Homo sapiens: one gene and its partners. The protein of the gene in region 1 interacts with the protein of each later gene in a pairwise test. Each region holds a gene or a part of one and is shown in the gene's direction. Other genes may lie near its edges. The genes, in order: KIF5A, KCNE3, RAPGEF2 and DSCAM.

The links.
Region 2: the proteins of KIF5A (region 1) and KCNE3 interact in a two-hybrid assay, tested with the Homo sapiens proteins (one large-scale study listed by BioGRID and IntAct).
Region 3: the proteins of KIF5A (region 1) and RAPGEF2 interact in a two-hybrid assay, tested with the Homo sapiens proteins (one large-scale study listed by BioGRID and IntAct).
Region 4: the proteins of KIF5A (region 1) and DSCAM interact in a two-hybrid assay, tested with the Homo sapiens proteins (one large-scale study listed by BioGRID and IntAct).

What each region holds. Positions count from the first base shown.
Region 1 is NC_000012.12:57,580,643-57,584,683, forward strand, and holds part of KIF5A (kinesin heavy chain isoform 5A), read left to right. Parts: intron 1-313; coding exon 314-530; intron 531-772; coding exon 773-926; intron 927-1,227; coding exon 1,228-1,310; intron 1,311-1,959; coding exon 1,960-1,987; intron 1,988-2,458; coding exon 2,459-2,537; 3' UTR 2,538-2,573; intron 2,574-3,575; 3' UTR 3,576-4,041. UniProt on the Homo sapiens protein: Microtubule-dependent motor required for slow axonal transport of neurofilament proteins (NFH, NFM and NFL). Can induce formation of neurite-like membrane protrusions in non-neuronal cells in a ZFYVE27-dependent manner.
Region 2 is NC_000011.10:74,464,366-74,469,522, reverse strand, and holds the start of KCNE3 (potassium voltage-gated channel subfamily E member 3), read left to right. Parts: upstream 1-1,973; 5' UTR 1,974-2,033; coding exon of another isoform or gene 2,034-2,125; intron 2,126-2,201; exon of another isoform or gene 2,202-5,157. UniProt on the Homo sapiens protein: Ancillary protein that functions as a regulatory subunit of the voltage-gated potassium (Kv) channel complex composed of pore-forming and potassium-conducting alpha subunits and of regulatory beta subunits.
Region 3 is NC_000004.12:159,109,323-159,113,818, forward strand, and holds part of RAPGEF2 (rap guanine nucleotide exchange factor 2), read left to right. Parts: intron 1-4,496. UniProt on the Homo sapiens protein: Functions as a guanine nucleotide exchange factor (GEF), which activates Rap and Ras family of small GTPases by exchanging bound GDP for free GTP in a cAMP-dependent manner.
Region 4 is NC_000021.9:40,336,356-40,340,851, reverse strand, and holds part of DSCAM (cell adhesion molecule DSCAM isoform CHD2-42 precursor), read left to right. Parts: intron 1-1,436; coding exon 1,437-1,733; intron 1,734-2,475; coding exon 2,476-2,751; intron 2,752-4,496. UniProt on the Homo sapiens protein: Cell adhesion molecule that plays a role in neuronal self-avoidance. Promotes repulsion between specific neuronal processes of either the same cell or the same subtype of cells.

The sequences.
Region 1 (4,041 bases):
GAGACAGGACAAGGCGCTCTCACAAGAGTTCTGGGCTGCAGTGGAGATGGCAGGTTTTACTGCCTAGAAAATTATATAACTTTTAAATGCCTGACCACCCACCCTTCGCTCTGGGAGAAGGAATGAGCTGGACAGAACAGTCCATTACATAAAGGCAATGAGGCCTTTTGAGGAAATGACATGGTCTCCATCTTCTCTGACTCCTGATTTTTCTTTATTCTCTCTCCTCACCCCTGTCCCCTACGCTCCTCTGGGTGACCGTCTTGGGTCACTTGCCTTCCTTTCCACTTCTTCCCTTTGGCTTGCCCCATAGCTGGTACGTGACAATGCAGATCTGCGTTGTGAGCTTCCTAAATTGGAAAAACGACTTAGGGCTACGGCTGAGAGAGTTAAGGCCCTGGAGGGTGCACTGAAGGAGGCCAAGGAGGGCGCCATGAAGGACAAGCGCCGGTACCAGCAGGAGGTGGACCGCATCAAGGAGGCCGTTCGCTACAAGAGCTCGGGCAAACGGGGCCATTCTGCCCAGATTGGTGAGTAGGTGTTAGCAGGCAAGGTGGGAGTATCTCCTGAAGCAAATTTAGCAAATTGCTAATTGCCAAGCAACTAGATTATTGCTTCTTACCTACCCCTAGCCTCATCCCACTTCCCCCCAAAAAGTAAAAAAGTGATTATGTTACAAGCAACTCAGTTCAACCCCAGCTAAATGACCTCAGGGACCAGGGCAAATGCAGGGTCATAGCCTCCTCATGGTTGTTTTCTTTCTTTATTGCAGCCAAACCCGTCCGGCCTGGCCACTACCCAGCATCCTCACCCACCAACCCCTATGGCACCCGGAGCCCTGAGTGCATCAGTTACACCAACAGCCTCTTCCAGAACTACCAGAATCTCTACCTGCAGGCCACACCCAGCTCCACCTCAGATATGTAGTGAGTGACCACACGTGTGGGTTGGAGTCCCACCCAAAGCTCCCTGGACCCTAGAAGGCATAGGGTGGGGGCAGTTATTGGTTGTGGCTTAATTATTTTCCTAAACCCTTTCTCAACTTCATGCCTATGATTAGAAGGTAGGTGTCTGCCCTCCCAGCCTGTGGCCATGTTTGTTTTCCTCTGCTCTCTGGGGATGGGGAGGGCTGAGCAGCTCTATCACTGAGGATGAGTGTGGATTAGTGGTCCTCAGACTAGTGGAGGGTGGGTGTCAGAGGCTGCCTCTTTCCTCTGCTCCATCCAGCTTTGCAAACTCCTGTACCAGCAGTGGAGCCACATCTTCTGGCGGCCCCTTGGCTTCCTACCAGAAGGCCAACATGGACAATGGTGAGTGAAAAAGATGGGTAATCCCACCTTTGGGGTCCTCAGGGCAAGTTGAGAGGCATAAAAGTAAGTGACCTTAGTGTACAAAAAACACTGACTGAACCTTTCTGGTGTGCCAAGGCTTCAAATAAAAAAAAAAATACATATAGCCAGGTGTGGTGGCATGCACCTGTAGTCCTAGCTACTTGGGAGGTTGAGATAGGAGGATTGCTTGAGCTCAGGAGCTTAAGGCTGAAGTGCACTGTGAATACACCTGTGAATAGCCACTGCACTCAGCCTGGGCAGCATAGTAAAGCCCCATCTCTAAAATAATAATAATAACACATATGAAGAAAAAAGTGACCCTGTACCTACAGCCTGAGCACTGCCCAGCCCTTTAGGTCTCAGGCTGCCTGGGAGTGGATTCCTCCTATTACCACGCCAATCCCAGCCCTTGCCTTCCAGTTCCCTTTTCCTCTCCTTGGTGAGGGGCTGCAGAAACTTTTTCTCGAACAAAATAATGATGTAGCTTGGGATAACTAAGGAGAAAGTGTCACAGCTTATCTTTTTCTCTAAGGGATTAAGATGGGAGAGGGTTTGCGCAAACTGTTTCTAACACCCAATCTCCTTTTTTCTTCTTCTAATCCTGTGTTCTCAATGATGATCTCTTCAGGAAATGCCACAGATATCAATGACAATAGGTACAACAGTCCCCACTACCCCTGGGTTCTCTGGGTGGGACCAGAAGAAATGATTAAATTTCCCTTGTGCCCCACTTGGAGGTTCCTGGAGCCTTTGGGGAAGGGGGAGGGAGTGAGACTCATTCTTTTCATCACTGTGTTGTCCAGGAGATCCAGTCATTCCCCTGCCTCAGTGCAGAATATCTCCCCTCCTCCAATCCCATCTGTGGCTTCTCCCTATTCCAGTGATAAGGTCTGGACGAAAACAACGTGGGCATCTGACGACTGGGTTTCTCTCCTACCTTTGGAAGCCTTGTGACATTGGACAAGTCATTTACATCCCTCTGGCCTTGAGTTTCCCTGTATTCCTGTAAAACACAAATAGTCCCTGCCGTTTGTGATCTCACAGGGACACTCTCAGAGCAGAGTAACCATGATGACAGGAATACTTTAATTTCTATGGAGCTGATCATGGTGGGTCTCTTCCTCCAGGAGTGACCTGCCGTGTGGCTATGAGGCTGAGGACCAGGCCAAGCTTTTCCCTCTCCACCAAGAGACAGCAGCCAGCTAATCTCCCACACCCACGGCTGCATACCTGCACTTTCAGGTAGCGTCAGGCTGCTTCCTCGGACCAGCCTCAGGTTGCTTCCCTTCTTGCTGACAGCCTCTTTGGTTTTCCTGCTGCTGCTTCTTTTTTTTTTTATCACCTCAAAACTTTAATTATGTAGTTACCCCTCAACTCCTGCTTTCCCCTGTTGGGGGCTACACCTGTGCTGCCCCATGTAATCTGGACGTTGACCTCCCGTGCCCCCTTTTGCTTTCCGTTAGGCTACAGTGGTAACCACAGTACTGTCTTTTTGCCACTAGGGGTCACTGTCACATGTCCAAAGAAGTGAGCTTGGCCGCTGTAGATTAGAACCACAGGGGTGGTAGACTGCAGATCTATCAGGAGACCCTAGGGGGCCATCTCAACCCCACCTCTTCCTCCACCCTGAAATAATTTTGGATGGATAGGTGTTTTTGGAACTAAGACATCTCCAGTTAAGGCGATGTTTGCTTCACGCCTGCACCTGTGTCCCATCCTCTTCCCATCTGTATATGCCACCAGTAAGCTTTAGGAAACGCCCCACGAAATCAGTCAGCGCTCCCCTCCCATCTTGCTCAGTGGAGGTGGCAAAGCCCCTCTTTTTCCTCCTCTGTCCCCAGGTGCTCTCCTCTAGCAGCACAGGAACCTTCTTTGTTCTTGTGTGTCACTGGGTTTCTCACCAAGGTTGCTTTAGGGCCCAGAAGTGGCACAGAGAACATGGCCAGTCTCTTACTGGGCTGCATCTAAGCTGAGCCCTCTCCAGGGGTTTCCCAGAATAGTAAACCAGGCACACACAGGCAGAAAAGTCTGAGAAGCAGAGAAGTAGGAATGCAGAAGAGGAGTTGGGGAGACCTAGGGGTGGAGGTGCAAGCCTGGGTCACGGGGGGCGGTGGTAGGGGGGTCTGCTTGTTGGTATTAAAGGAACAGGACAGTAAACCAAAGTGTGTGCAGATGCCACCTGTTCCTGTTCTGTGACTGAGCTACAAGCTGGGCCCTCACACCCTCTTTCTCTTTCTTTCCCAGTTTCTAAGAGGGACTGAGGCCTCTTCTCAGCATGCTGCAAACCTGTGGTCTCTGATACTAACTCCCTCCCCAACCCCTGTTGTTGGACTGTACTATGTTTGATGTCTTCTCTTACTTACTCTGTATCTCTTTGTACTCTGTATCTATATATCAAAAGCTGCTGCTATGTCTCTCTTCTGTCTTATTCTCAAGTATCTACTGATGTATTTAGCAATTTCAAAGCATAGTCTACCTTCCTTATTTGGGGCAATAGGGAGGAGGGTGAATGTTTCTTCTTTCTCATCTACTCGTCTCACACTGAGTGGTGTTAGTCACTGAGTAGAGGTCACAGAGATGACAAAAGGAAAAATGGGAGCTAGAGGGTTGTGACCCTTCATACACACACGCACGCACGCACACAAACATGCACACACGCATGCACACACACAAAGCCTTAAGCAGAAGAATGTCTTAGCATCATGAGACA
Region 2 (5,157 bases), on another chromosome or scaffold:
AGTAAGCTGAGATCACACCACTGCACTCCAGCCTGGGTGATATGTTTCCAAAAATAAAGAAATGGGAGAATCTGTTAGGCTCATGAGGGATTTGACTAGGAAACTCTTGAGAGTTCTTCCAATTTACATTCCAGAACCCTAAGATGATATGATTCTAAGACTTTGGTTCTAAGATTTTATTAGAACAAAAGACAATCCCTATCTTCAAAGAACTCACAACCTAGCAGATGGGGTGGACAAATGGTTACTTTCTATAACTGTCATAGACAGTCCTACAGAGTAAATGCAAGGCCGTGGGCAGGATCTGAGAAAGAACCCTGACCAAGCCAGGACTGCTTCCTCATGGCTAGTCTCAAGAACCATTTGCATCAGAGTCATTTGGAAATCTTGTTTGAAAATGCTGATTTCTAGGCTCTACTCCAGATTTCCTGAATTAGAACCTCTGGAGTGGAGCCCAAAAGTCTACTTAGTAAAACAAGCTCCCCAGGGGATTCTTAGGCAGATTGAAAACTGAGGTTGCAGGATGGGCACAGTGGTTCATGCCTGTAATCCCAGAACTTTGGGAGGTGGAGGTGTGCAGGTCACTTGAGCCCAGGAGTTCGAGATCAGCCTGGGCAACATGGAGTAACCCAATTTCTATAAAATACAAAAATTAGCCAGACATAGTGGTGTGTCCCAGTTACTCAGGAGGTTAAGGGAGGAGGATCACCTGAGCCCAGGAGTTCAAGGCTGCTGTGAGCCATAATCACTCCACTGCACTCCAGCCTGGGTGACACAGTGAGATCCTGTCTAAAGGAAGGAAGGAAGGAAGGAAGGAAGGAAGGAAGGAAGAAAGAAAGGAAGGAAGGAAGGAAACTGAGATTGCATGCTTAGGTGATTAGGATGACTTTTCTGAGAGGTGATCTCCAGACTGAGAAAAAGGAATAGTAGGGTCAAAACAAGGTGGGTACAATATACCCACCTTGTATATTGTATACAATATACAATATACCCACCTTGTAGTAGGTCTTTTTAAAACGATAGCACTTCTTAGATATATTCTGGGATTCTGTAATTGAGAGTATGTGCTTCAGATATCCTGGAGCAGACCTTTGCAAGGGAGTGAAAGAGCTGGCCTGAGGCTGTTATTAATTATTCTGAGGCAGTGAGCTGGTAAAAGGGCACCCCACAGGGTCCCCCGGAGAAATTCTCTGCAACTGTCCCTTCCTCTGCCACTAGCCTCCTGGCTCTTATTCCTCAGCTGCCCCGGCTGCCCCAGTTCTCTGAAGCCTGCAATGTCACCAGCAAGGAAACAACAGTTTGAGTGAGGGCATGGTGGTGGGAAAATAAACTGTTCTGGGACAGAGATGAGTAAGGTGCGGCTGAACACAAGTTGGTCAGGCACTGTCACGAACTTTTGAGGCTTGGTGGAGGAAACATTTGCTGGTGCTACTCAGAGACAGAGGGGTGTGTAGTGGATTTTGGGTCTGGGCTCTGCTACCTGGGCAAATCCCTTCTCCAACTGGGCCTCTGCGTCCTGTGTGGAAAAGAGTTTGTGTAAGAATCATATTATTTTGCTGTTGACCCTTTGGTTTTAATACTTTGGACTCAAAGGTCTCATCTGACCTCAACCATAAGCCTGTGAAGAATGCATGGAGGAACTGTACCAACTTTACAGCCAGGCCAAGGCCCAGTGAGGGGCAGCGACTCGCCCACCACCACACAGCCACACTGGAGCAAAACCGACTCCTGGAGATCGGCCTCATGCTGGGCTTGCTGAGGCCCAGCGGAGCGAGAGGCTTTCGGTCTCTGGTCCAGGAAGCAGGCGCTGCAGGGGACGGAAGGGTCGGAGCCCACAGCCGGGGGAGGCCAAGGAGCTGGGCGGAGGCACTCCAGGCCAGCCCGGGGAGAAGTGGGTGTGCTGGGGCCCGGGCGGGGCAGGGGGAGGGGACGCCCGGGGGAGGGAAAAGGGAGCCGAGCGCGGGTGGGAGCCCAGAGCCAGAGAGCGCGCTGGGCGGTGCTGGGCACCCGCGGAGTGGAACGGGGCTGGTGGAATGCACAGGGTCGCAGCGCTTGGGCCACCCTCGGTCAGAGGGCGCCGTGTCCAGCGAGCAAACGGGCGCCCCGGAGCCTTGCTGAGAGGCAGGTAAGGCACCCACCCAGCTGGGAAGGCTGAGCTGCGGCCTGGGGTGGAAATGAGGGGTCTTCCCGCCTCCCTTCCAAGGGCCACGGCGCGCTCTCCGTGAGACTGTGGAACCGAGGGGGAGTGGGGGAGGGGTGGGCGCTGCAAATACCAAGCTAGTCCTCCCGGATCCTCCCCGATCCTCCCGAGCGCAGTGATCGTGGAGCAGCATGTGGGAGTAGGGAGCTGGGCTCTGCGCGCCCCGTCTGGAAACCGTGGGGACTTGCGCCGTTATTCCCAGCCCTCAAGACGGCCACAAGAAAAGTTCCTCCACACCCACAGACGTGCAAGCGAACACTTGCAGCTGGCAGCCAGTGCACACGCAGAAACGACATTTCAGGACCCAGCACAGTCTCATTTGGCTGGAGCCACCGGCTCTGCGGAGCTGACTTGCCCATTCCCTCTACACCTCACTGTGTCCTTCACCCTGTCTGACCTAGTCCCGGGAAACCTGGTGACTCCCAAAAGCATCTTCTGCTGCCAGTAACATAGGTCGAGGCTGGGAGTCGGGAGACTTGAGTTCTAGTTTACAGGCTGTGTAAACCCGGGCAGTCATCCCTCAGCTCTGCGCCTTGTGCTCGCTTTTCCTGGGCCACCATTTGTAAAACGGGCCTCCTGCTCCTGTTGCCTGCATACCCCATGGGACAGAAGGGGAAAGGGGGATTGGACCTCAGAGTCTCTTATCTCGAAAATAAATGAGTTTAGTTCTTGCGTGAAAGCCCACCAGAGTATCCCTCCTAAAATCCTCTCCACTAATTTGCATATAGGGAAACTGATGCCCCAGGGGAGATGATTTACCTAAGGTTACAACAGAGACCAAACAGAATTAGAACCCAAGTTTCCTCAGTCCTAGCCCAGGGCTCTCTCCACTTCACCTACAAAGGCATGTTGTAAACGTGTGAGCTCCTCCTTATTTCCTTGCATCCGTCCACTTTGTCTGTTCCTGATGGAGGAAGACCCATGCTGGGGGCCTAGAAGCTGCTTTCAGATTTTCTTGACTCCTTGAGATGATAACCATCACCTTCTCCATCCCTCACTCAGTCTATACGTCTCAAAGCACATCCATAAACTTAATGTGCGAGTGCTCAAAATACCTTCTAAGAGGGAAGCAAGACAAGAAACTCCATCTTACTGATGAGGAAAATGAGGCCTAGAGGGATATAGACTTAGAGTGATAAAGTTACTTAACCAAAACGCACGGCTAGACGTGTTGGCCTAGTAGGGGCAGGAACCCAGGTCTCCTGATTCCCCCTCTGATGTGTTCTCCACCAGCTACAGGACTACAGAATGGTACCCCTCAATGATAAGGGACTGCGGGAATGATCATAGAGGGTAGGAAACAGGAAGGCTTCTGGAGAAGGTGAGGTTCCTGGGAATCAAGAAGAATAATAAGAACCTCCTGGCTGCTTCTGAGGCTAGGAGACCTGGAGTGGGAAAGGAGACACAGAGATGGTTGTTCTTGGTAATATGGGGGGAAAGGAAAGATGTGGAGACAGAAAAGGAAAACAGTGTGACCAGCCTGCCTGATAATTATCTTGTATGTTTGCAATTTCTAAAACATTCCCATCTCTTGTCTCCTCTAGTTCTCATGTGTGGTAGGCAGGGCAGGGATCATTATCCCCATCTTATAGATGAGGTTCAGAGGAAGTAAATGCAGTGCTCAAGGACACAGAGCCAAGCATACAGCCAAGATTAGAATCATGAAAGGAACACTTGAACGGCAAGATCACAGGCTGAGGGACTGGGGAGTTGGACTGTGTGTGTGTGTGCAGTGGGTGGGTGTATGTGGCCACACCCTGGGTAGGTACACAGGGAAGAGGGTTGCAAAGCCATTGCTGGTGTTTTGAGGCCAAGAATGTTTGCCCTTTGGATTGAATGGGGTCCAGGTGCAGGGAGCATCTGGGCTTCCAAAGAAGGCTTAGAATTCTTCCTCCTCTGACTCACCCCACCTGACTGAGATGGCTTCTTTTCTTTGAGCCATCCCTTCCCCAGACCAAATGAAATCTGTTTTGCCCTGCCCTGGAGGTTGCTTTTTAAATATTGTAAACTGTTTTCATGAATGTATGTGCGTGTGCCAGAGCGGGGGAATGCTCTTAGAGAAGAGGCATTGATTCATTTATTCTTGAATGCCTGCTAGGTATCAGGGCTGGGAAATAAAGAAATGTATGAGGCACAGGACCCTGCCCTCTTACCTTAAAGCGCACAGTTACACACATACACATACACACACACACATACACACACACACACACACACACAGAGTTTCAGTACAGTATAGTGCTCTAATAAGCCTTCGTGCAAAGCACTTTTGGGAAAAAACAAGAGGGAGAGACTAACTGGCTAGGGAGTGAGGAAGGAGGAGTCCCAGGAGAAGGTCTGCAGAGATGAATTGGAGTTGGGTCTTGAAGGATGAGTAGGAGTTTGCCAGGCAGGTAAAAAGAGGAAGGGCATTCTTGTTTAAGAAAACAGCATGAGCAAAGGCAAGAGATGTGCAAGTGCAAGGAATATTTGGAGAGTGGCCTGTACTTCAGTGTCATGGGTGCAGGCCACTGAAAAGAGCTGTGGGGAGATGAGGCCAGTGTCAGAGTCACATTTCAAGGAGCTTCAGTGGTAATCAGAAGAGTTTAGAGTCTGCCCTACTGGCAGAAGGGAACTTATAGTGGAAAGGTCTGTGGAGGGGAAGTCAAGATACTTGGTTTCTGGCTCCAACTCTGCCACTACTGAGCTGTGAGACCTTAAGCAGGTGATTCCCTTGGGGAGGAGGGTCTATTTTCCCACTGGTTGAATGAGGGGGTTGCACCAACAACATGATCATGAAGATCTCTTCCAGCTCAGATTCTATTCCTTTGTCCTTCCAACTGGATGCTAAGGGCTACTCCTTCAACTCCTCTCCCACTCCACCAGCTCTCCAATCCACAGGAGTGGTAAGACCACCAAGGGGACAGTGGTAAAACTGTGCACCCCAGGAACTGTCTTTGGATCACCTACCTGCTTTA
Region 3 (4,496 bases), on another chromosome or scaffold:
TTCTATTTAAAAGAAAGGTAAATTTGATTTAGACTTAGGAGATATGGAAACCACTGAAAATCGTTGGTCCTTGATAATCCGTATTTTATGGGGTATTCCTTCTCTTCACTCCATTTTTGGTAACAATTTCCTCGTCGGTAAAATGGATAATAGCTGTCTGAGGTTTTGTGGATTAAGTGAAAGTACATTATTTAGTGTAATGCCTAATGTTAGTCCTCTTTATAGCATATTTTATACAATTTCTATTATTTAACAGGCCTTGGGAATTCAAAGATGAAATGTGTGTCCCTCAAGTAACTCACTAATCTATTGTTATAAGTAGATTGTAATTCATGAGTGCTGTAACAGCTATCCTATGACAGCACTGAAGAGGATGTGGACTTCCTAGATGAATATGTATTGAGTTGTAGGGGAGTAAGAATTCACCTACCAGTGAACTAGTGGACCTGAAGTGGTATTCCAGATTGACCTACTGTCATATGAGTAGCACACCTGGTAAGACAACATGTGCAGCTCTTTGTTCAGTGTGCTGGGAACCAGGGGACTGAGGAGGGGGTAAGGAATGATTACTGGCATTTAGAAGCTCATGGTTTGTGAGGGTAGTGAGGAGACCAAGAGTTCTGTTAAAGACTGATGTTCATTTTCCTGGCTTGAGATGGCTGGGAAGCTGAATTACACAGTGGTGATGGATTAGAAATATTGCAGGAGTAGAATCTGCTGGACAGGCTGGCTGAATGTGTGCACGTTTTATATCTCATTATAGTAAAACTGTGTTTGAATCATACCAGTGCAGCCTAATTATGGCACAGGATGATCATGGATATTTCATAGTTCATAGGAAAAAATCCAAGTTGTTGAATATAGTTTTCTTGATTTTTAAGGTTTCTCACACTATTTTTTTCCCTTAAACATTAATGTCTTCTACTACATGTACATTCTGGGAATCTAGTTTGAAATATCTGGTTAATCATATAGTTAAACTAGGCCAGGTGCTGTGGCTCATGCCTCTAATCCTAGCACTTTAGGAGGCTGAGGCGGGTGGATCACTTGAGGTCAGGAGTTCAACACCAGCCTGGCCAACATAGTGAAACCCTATCTCTACTAAAAATACAAAAAATTAGCCAGGTGCCTGTATTCCCAGCTACTCGGGGAGACTGAGACAGGAGAATCACTTGAACCCTGGAGGCAGAGGTTGCAGTGAGCCGAGATTGTGCCATTGCACTCCAGCCTGGGTAACAAGAGCGAAACCCCATCTCAAAAAAACAAAACCCAAAACACCATCATGTAGTTGTACTAAATATATTTCTTAATCTGTAATGATAATGTGATTTCCAAGCATTTCATCATTTGGAAGAGTTGGAGAACTTCTGAATTTAAGCAGGCAAAAATGAACTTATTTATATAAAAACTCAAAATTGACTTGTGACGACACAATGTAATGATGGCATTGAGTCTTTGAGAACAGTTTTTTACTCCTTTATACCATTTTTTGTTTAGATAAATTAATTGATGTTGGTAAATTAGGAGAAGCAATCTGTAGTACATATAATTGATCTTGTAACTTTATCAGAGCTAGAATATATATTTATGTATTTATATAGTTAAAACTATGTTCAAGTGATTATGTCAGTCATTGTAGGAAGAAAAATAAGTTTATTGCCGCATTATTTTGACTTCTAGAATTTTTATCTTTTCAGGAAAAAAAAAAACCACCCTTGTTTTCACATGCAAAATCGCCACTACCTACTGAATTTTAAGAAGCGTGTGTTTCTTGCTGTATTCAGCTGTTTCCTTTTTCCCTCCAGTCTGTGAAAGAATTTACCCTTGGTGCGGTGGTGGTGGGTTTATTGGTTTTTGTGGAGGAAACAACTTGGTCCTTGGATTTTAAGTTGTCCTGGCTCCACCTCTTCTGTGCTTTCATATCCATTATGTATAAGAAGTGTTTTGGGAGAGTTAGTGTCAGTGACTTGAAGAGGAACTTTGTTTTGTCATTGGAACTAAACTTGTCTTCCGCTGGCTGTTGTTTCTCATTGCTTGCCTTCCACAGGTTGAAAATAATGGACTGTGGAGCTTTAGAATTAAAATAAGTGAATAAAAATGTACATTTCGCTGCCATTTGCAGTTTAGTTGACAAACCGACACAGTGTAATATCTGCCCCTTGGCACCTTTCTGTTCTTCTCTAGCTCATGGTATTTGTTTTCACCCAACATAAAAACGGAGAAGAAAGGTAGAGAACACTGAACGAGAATTAATCATTAGGTCATTCTGGGGAGGTCTGATAGTAACTTTCTTAGAAGCCAACAATCAGTGGATCTGAGAGGTTTATGGTACTATGGTGATTATCTGATTTCTCCTGAAAATTCATTCTAGAGTTAAGACTCATTATCTTTTAAAATGTATTTTATTTTTTAATGACCAGTCTTCAGTGGAATCATTATCTTTCTTAAACTTTTTAGCTTAAGATAAATGTAGATTCACATACAATTGTAGGAAATAATGGGGAGAGATCCTGTGTGTACCCTTTAACCGGTTTCTCCCATTAGTAATAGCTTATAAAACTGTAGTGTAATATCACAATCAGGATATTGACATCAGTGCAATCAAGAAACAAAGCAATTCCAGCACCACAAATGGTTCTTGTTGGACTTTTATAGCCACAGTCACTCCCCCACCCCACCTCTGGGGATCACTAATCTGTTCCATTTCTATAACTTTGTCATTTCAAAAATGTTATTAATTGGAATCGTACAGTATATGGCCTTTGGAGATTGACTCCCCTCCCCCTGCGCAGCATCATTAAGGCTTATTACCTTTTGGTTAAAATGAATTTCTGTTGTTAGTGAATAGTTTGGCCTTGTGCTTCTAAAATACCAATAATGTCTGAGGATTGGGGGGTTGGTGGTAAAAGGTGAGATGGGTTTAATAGTGACAATGAAGAGAAAGTTCTGTGATAATGCGTATAAATATAGAGCAAAGAGCATAAGGTCTTGGATGAGCAAGAGTTGTGATAGCATACCACATTTGGGAGATTTTGATATATGTATTTCCTTTTCATATTTTTTTTTTGTCATAATGGAAGTAGTAAGGTTAGCCTTAGCCTTCATATTCTCCAACTGAAATTTAAAAAATAAAATCAGAAGGAAGTCTAATGACTGTATATACAAAAGGGAGTCCCAATGGCCAAATTTGGGACAGTTTGAGAAGCAAATCATGACAGTAACGGACTATAACCCCTAGGGAAGAAAGTATCCATGAGCCCATACTGATATAAGTAAGTAGTTGAATAAATAAATAAAAGCAGGAGAAGAGACACCTCTTTGTTATAGAATTCTAATTAGAAAATGAAGGAATGATGGAAATAGAAAATCACCAGCAGGTAAACACCATAGTAGCAATTGTTACAGGCAGGAATCATCAATGGATGCCAAAATTAGTGGGTGAAGGTATGATGAAAAATATCATCATAGATCAGTATCATCAGGATATTTGCATAGTCTCAAAATATCTCCCCCACAAAATTAATTAACTATAAAGGAAAAAATCAATACTTAATAGTGAAGAAAACTGGTAATATCAAATTAACCAGATCATCAAAGTTAATATCATTAGTAATAAGACATGTCAACATCATGTGTCTGCTGATATAATGTATTGAGAAAGAGATATCTCTGGTATTCTTAACTAAAAATCAACCTAAGTGGAGCAAATATCAGATAGACTCAAATTTAAGGACATTTTACAAAATAACTGGCCAGTATTCCCTGAAAGTATTGAGGGTGTGGAAGATGAAGAAATGCCCAAGAACTGCCACACATTGGAAGAAACTAAGGACATGTGATAACCAAATGTAATGTAGGATTCTGGAATTGATCCTGGACAAGAACAACAACAAAAAAACATTATTAGGATGACTGATGAAATTTGAATATTTAGATAACTTTACCACAATTATTGTAGATGCTAAATTACGGGAAGCTGGGTAAACAGGGGATCTTTGACCCGTTTTTTAAATAACCTTTTTTACTCTAAAATTATTTAAAAATTCAAAGTTAAAAAAAGGAAGCATAGCTTTTGAAGTTTTTTTTGTGAACCTGAAAAGGGGATACCAAATTATTACTTTTTAAGACATCTTTTAGGCTGGGCATGGTGGCTCACTCCTGTAATCCCTGCACTTTGGAAGACTGAGGCGGGTGGATCACCTGAAGTCGGGAATTCGAGTTGAGCCTGGCCAACATGGCGAAACCCCTTCTCTACTACATATACAAAAAATTAGCCAGGAGTGGTGGCGCATGCTTGTAATTCCAGCTACTTGGGAGGCTGAGGCAAGAGAATCACTTGAACCCAGGAGGTGGAGGTTGCAGTGAGCCGAGATTGCACCATTGCCCTCTAGCCTGGGTGACGGATGAGACTCTGTCTCAAAAAAAAAAAAAAAAAAAAAGTATCTTTTTTTCCAGTTTAATAATTTACTCTTAATGAAGAGCCTAGTACCTTTTAA
Region 4 (4,496 bases), on another chromosome or scaffold:
TTAACCATTAACTGTCACCTTTCCCTGATGGAATTGCAAGCTATCCTAATTTTGCTTGCCTCCTTTCTTTTTGTTTATAATACTTTCCAATTTTCAACAAAAAAGATATTCAACAATGGAGATTCATTACTTTTATAATAAAATCAAAAACTAAAAAAAATCTACTCATTCTTATCTTTCATTATGGGACAACCCTTTAATTGAACACAAAAATTCTTTTAAAAAACAAAAGATGTCCCCTCCAGCAAGGTCTCTTACCAGACTCAGAAATCCTGTGGCATGTGATTGCAATTATGTCAAAATGACCCACTTATGCCTAGAAAAAATGTGTCACAGTGTTGATTTGTATGCCTGAGGCTGGCTGACCTATTGGTAACTTTTCTTCTGATTTTCATACATTTCCTTTAATATGCATGTATTTCTTTTTATAAATGGAAAAACATATATAAAAGAAACATGCATTTGTAACTATTACTATATAAGAGAAAAAACCATATGGATGATAGAAAAATAATGGAATATGAAAATTTGATCTATGTAAACATACTGAAAATTTCTATGGAGACTTCTCTAAGATTAAGATCCTAGTTTGCCTGCGATAGTTCTGGGTCATGCCTGTTCTCTTGGCATAATTATTAGTCCTTTCTGTTTCAGCCTCAAAAGTGTCCCAGGTTGGATGTTAAATTATATGGCCAGCCTACTTAAGATACTTTTAGAGAGATTTAAAACATGCTTAAGTACCCTACTTAAGATATCTTTAGAGGTTTTTAATACACGGCATTTAATACAAACTTTATTTAGCTTCTACCCATTCTCAGAGACTTCATGGAAGTTTGCATGCAATTACTATTTGTAATTAAAGTTATTAAAAGAGGATTTCTTATGAGAAAATGATGAAGATGAGGTCATCAATCTCTCAGTAGTTTCCTTTATTCCTGTAAAGAATTCCCTAGTGAGAAAACCCCAAATAACTTGAGGAAGTATTAGGTTGGTGCAAAAGTAATTGCTGTTTTTGCCATTACTTTTTGCAATCACTTTTGCACCAACCTAACAGATAAAGTGACTGTTTGTGGGAGTGAGCGGGTGTGGATTTTCCGTCTGTTTATAACTTTGTGTGAGGAAACACCAGTTTTAAATTAAGGACTTCTTAGGAGCTGTCATTGTTTAACCTGAACATCTGAGTTGTATTACCATTCCTCTTAAGTCAATCAGGAAATATAGAAACAGTTGATGAAAGCTTGCTAACACTGTGCTTACCTGTTTTGAAAACAGTGAACTCTTGTTCTGATTAACGTTTTGCTTTATCAGGAAAACCAGACCTTTTTGGTAATGTTTAACAACTACGACATTTACCCCCTAGACATGAAAGACATATACTTGGAAGTTGTTTAATTATTTGTATGTGCCACTTTCTTCCATAATTTGTTTTCCTGCAGATGGAACTCCCAAAATTATTTCTGCCTTTAGTGAAAAGGTGGTGAGTCCAGCAGAGCCGGTTTCCCTTATGTGCAACGTGAAGGGAACACCTTTGCCCACGATCACGTGGACCCTGGACGATGACCCGATTCTCAAGGGTGGCAGTCACCGCATCAGCCAGATGATCACGTCGGAGGGGAACGTGGTCAGCTACCTGAACATCTCCAGCTCCCAGGTCCGGGACGGGGGAGTCTACCGCTGCACTGCCAACAACTCGGCGGGAGTCGTCCTGTACCAGGCTCGAATAAACGTAAGAGGTGCTTGTCAAATCAGCTCCTCAAAAAAACACACATAACTCATTATAGTGGAGAAGAAGATTTCTGCATGCACCGAGCTGGGTCTTGGAATGCCAGAGCGGATTAACTGTTGCTTCCCATTTCCTACCCTCTCCTTCCTACTCAGGAATGGCACTGACTGGGTTAATGTTGGAAATGGCATTTTGGTTTCTGTAGTCAGCTTGTTCTTTTTTACTCTAGATCTGTTCACCTGATGTTTCCTTTCCTGGTTTATGCTCTGCATGCCCTTTCCCTTCTCCTTCTCTTCGGTTCTTCCACATTCATGGTAAACCTTCATGTACATGGTATTAAACTTACATTCATGCTGCAACGTGATGTAACCTCCATTGTCGTCCTAGATTTTACAGAGAGAGTTAAACAATTGATCAATTGCTGCCAGTGTGTTCACCAAAAGTGCGTGATTGTCCAGTATAGACTAGTTACTTTCTATTAATTAAATTGCCTTTTATCTTGTAATTTTTAATTCAAAACATTTTCATAGAAGTAGCAGATAAAGTGTTTCACAGTTATACATTTGAATTTAAGAAAAGGAAAGAAAAACCTTTGTTGTAGAAAATGCCACATGCAAAAATATTTGTTTAACTGAAAAAGATGTGCTTACATGAATATAATCTACATTTTTAACTCAAGGAAAAGTGTACCCATTTCCCTACATGAGATGTACCCTTAAATTATTTTCAAGAGTTTCTTTGTGTCTCTCCAGGGCCTGCAAGCATTCGACCAATGAAAAACATCACAGCAATAGCAGGACGGGACACATACATTCACTGTCGTGTGATTGGCTATCCGTATTACTCCATTAAATGGTACAAGAACTCTAACCTGCTTCCTTTCAACCACCGCCAAGTGGCATTTGAGAACAATGGAACTCTTAAACTTTCAGATGTGCAAAAGGAAGTGGACGAGGGGGAGTACACGTGCAACGTGTTGGTTCAACCACAACTCTCCACCAGCCAGAGCGTCCACGTGACCGTGAAAGGTAAGCCCTGTTCTCCTGGTTCCCACACAACTCATTCCATAGCCCGACTACTTCCCAGACCAATGATTTGAAGTCGGGTAATCCAAGATCTGCTTATTTAGAGCAGGATAATTGTACAGGCTGAAGAATGACAGGGAACATGAGATGTCCTCTTTACTACTGACTGAATCTTCACAGGAACTTTAGTTGATCTGATTTTCTCTCCAGGTGGAATTTTGGCTTGGTTTTCCAGAGGGCATGTGTTGTTAACAATACAACAGAAAAAAAAGGAGCACATCATTAGCTTCATTATCTAGTCATCTCTCAGATAATTTTTAAATAAATAACCTTCTTTTCCTAAAACCTCCTAAAAGCAAGGTCTCTTAGAACTTCACTGGAAGGGATTTTCTGTATTGGATGAGGATTTCAAACAAACGTCTTATCTTCTGTAGATGAGCAGGTCAAAGCAACAACATAGAAATTATATGTTTAAAGGATGCCACAGAACGTTTTCCTCATTAAATTATTCTTTGCATCATGACATGGACTGTCATGGAATCTACCTGTCAGGATGATCTTTAGAGATCCTGCAATTTGAATTGACTACAATCTCCTTACCAGAAAAAAACAATAAGGTGATCAGACTCATCCAAGGATACGCAGACTTTTAGTGGCAGAGCCTCAGAAAGACTCATTTCTTCTATTCTACAAGTCAGTTTCCTGAGCTGAATATGAAATAAAATTGTTTTAATTATGTAAGGAATCTACCTGAGGTGGGTCCTAGGAATAGAACTAATATGTTATAAAACTATTTCCGAAACCTGTGGGTGTTGCTTCTAGCCACATTGAGCTGCCTGTCTGAGGTGTCCAAGTTCTCTCTCCAGGAACCAATAAGTGGCTTTTAGTTGCCCTTGTTACAAAGTTGCATAGGTTTCCTGTGGTCTTCCCCAAGCTTCTTTTCCCACCAACCCTGTGAGTTTTACTTTTGTGAGAACGCATACAGACACACACACATGGAAATAATAATATGTGTATACTATTATTACGGGGCATATATATTGCATTACATTATATATTATAGAATATGTATTGTGCATTGTATATTAGATATGCCTGCACATAATTATAAATCGGTTTTTAATAACCATATGTCTTGAGAATTTCCTCAAATCACTAGATATTCTTGGTAAACCAGGCTGCATAAAGGTTCATTTGGTGGTTGTGTTTATTTATTTAATCCTCATTTACAGAACATCTGCTTCATGCCAGGCACTACTCTAGACACTGAGGAATACAACAATGAAAAAGGTCTGCAAGGTCCTTTCCTTCATTGACTCTCTTCTCAGTCAGGAGAGACAAACAATAAACAAATAAAACAAGTGAATAAACCAGAAAACACCTAATGGTACTCCATACTATGCAGAGAATTAAAACATGGCAGTATCTTAATGGTTCATTGCAATAGTCAGATGCCATATCAACACATTTTCTGTACTCTGTCATCTTAAAATTCATTGGTCTATCATACCCTTGGAAGGAATGTTTTACCCACACATGATTTTGTAACATAAAAAGTTGATCATTTGGAAATGATTGGTTCACTGTGTTACACAGATCTTCCAAATGTTGATACAATTTGTTATACAATATCAAAATATCACAACTACTAACATTACCATGATCTCATCAGAAAGTCTTCAAGTAAACTGTCAAGTTCATGCTGATGGATGCAAGTTTTCTAAAATTCTATTCTTTCTTGAAAGATT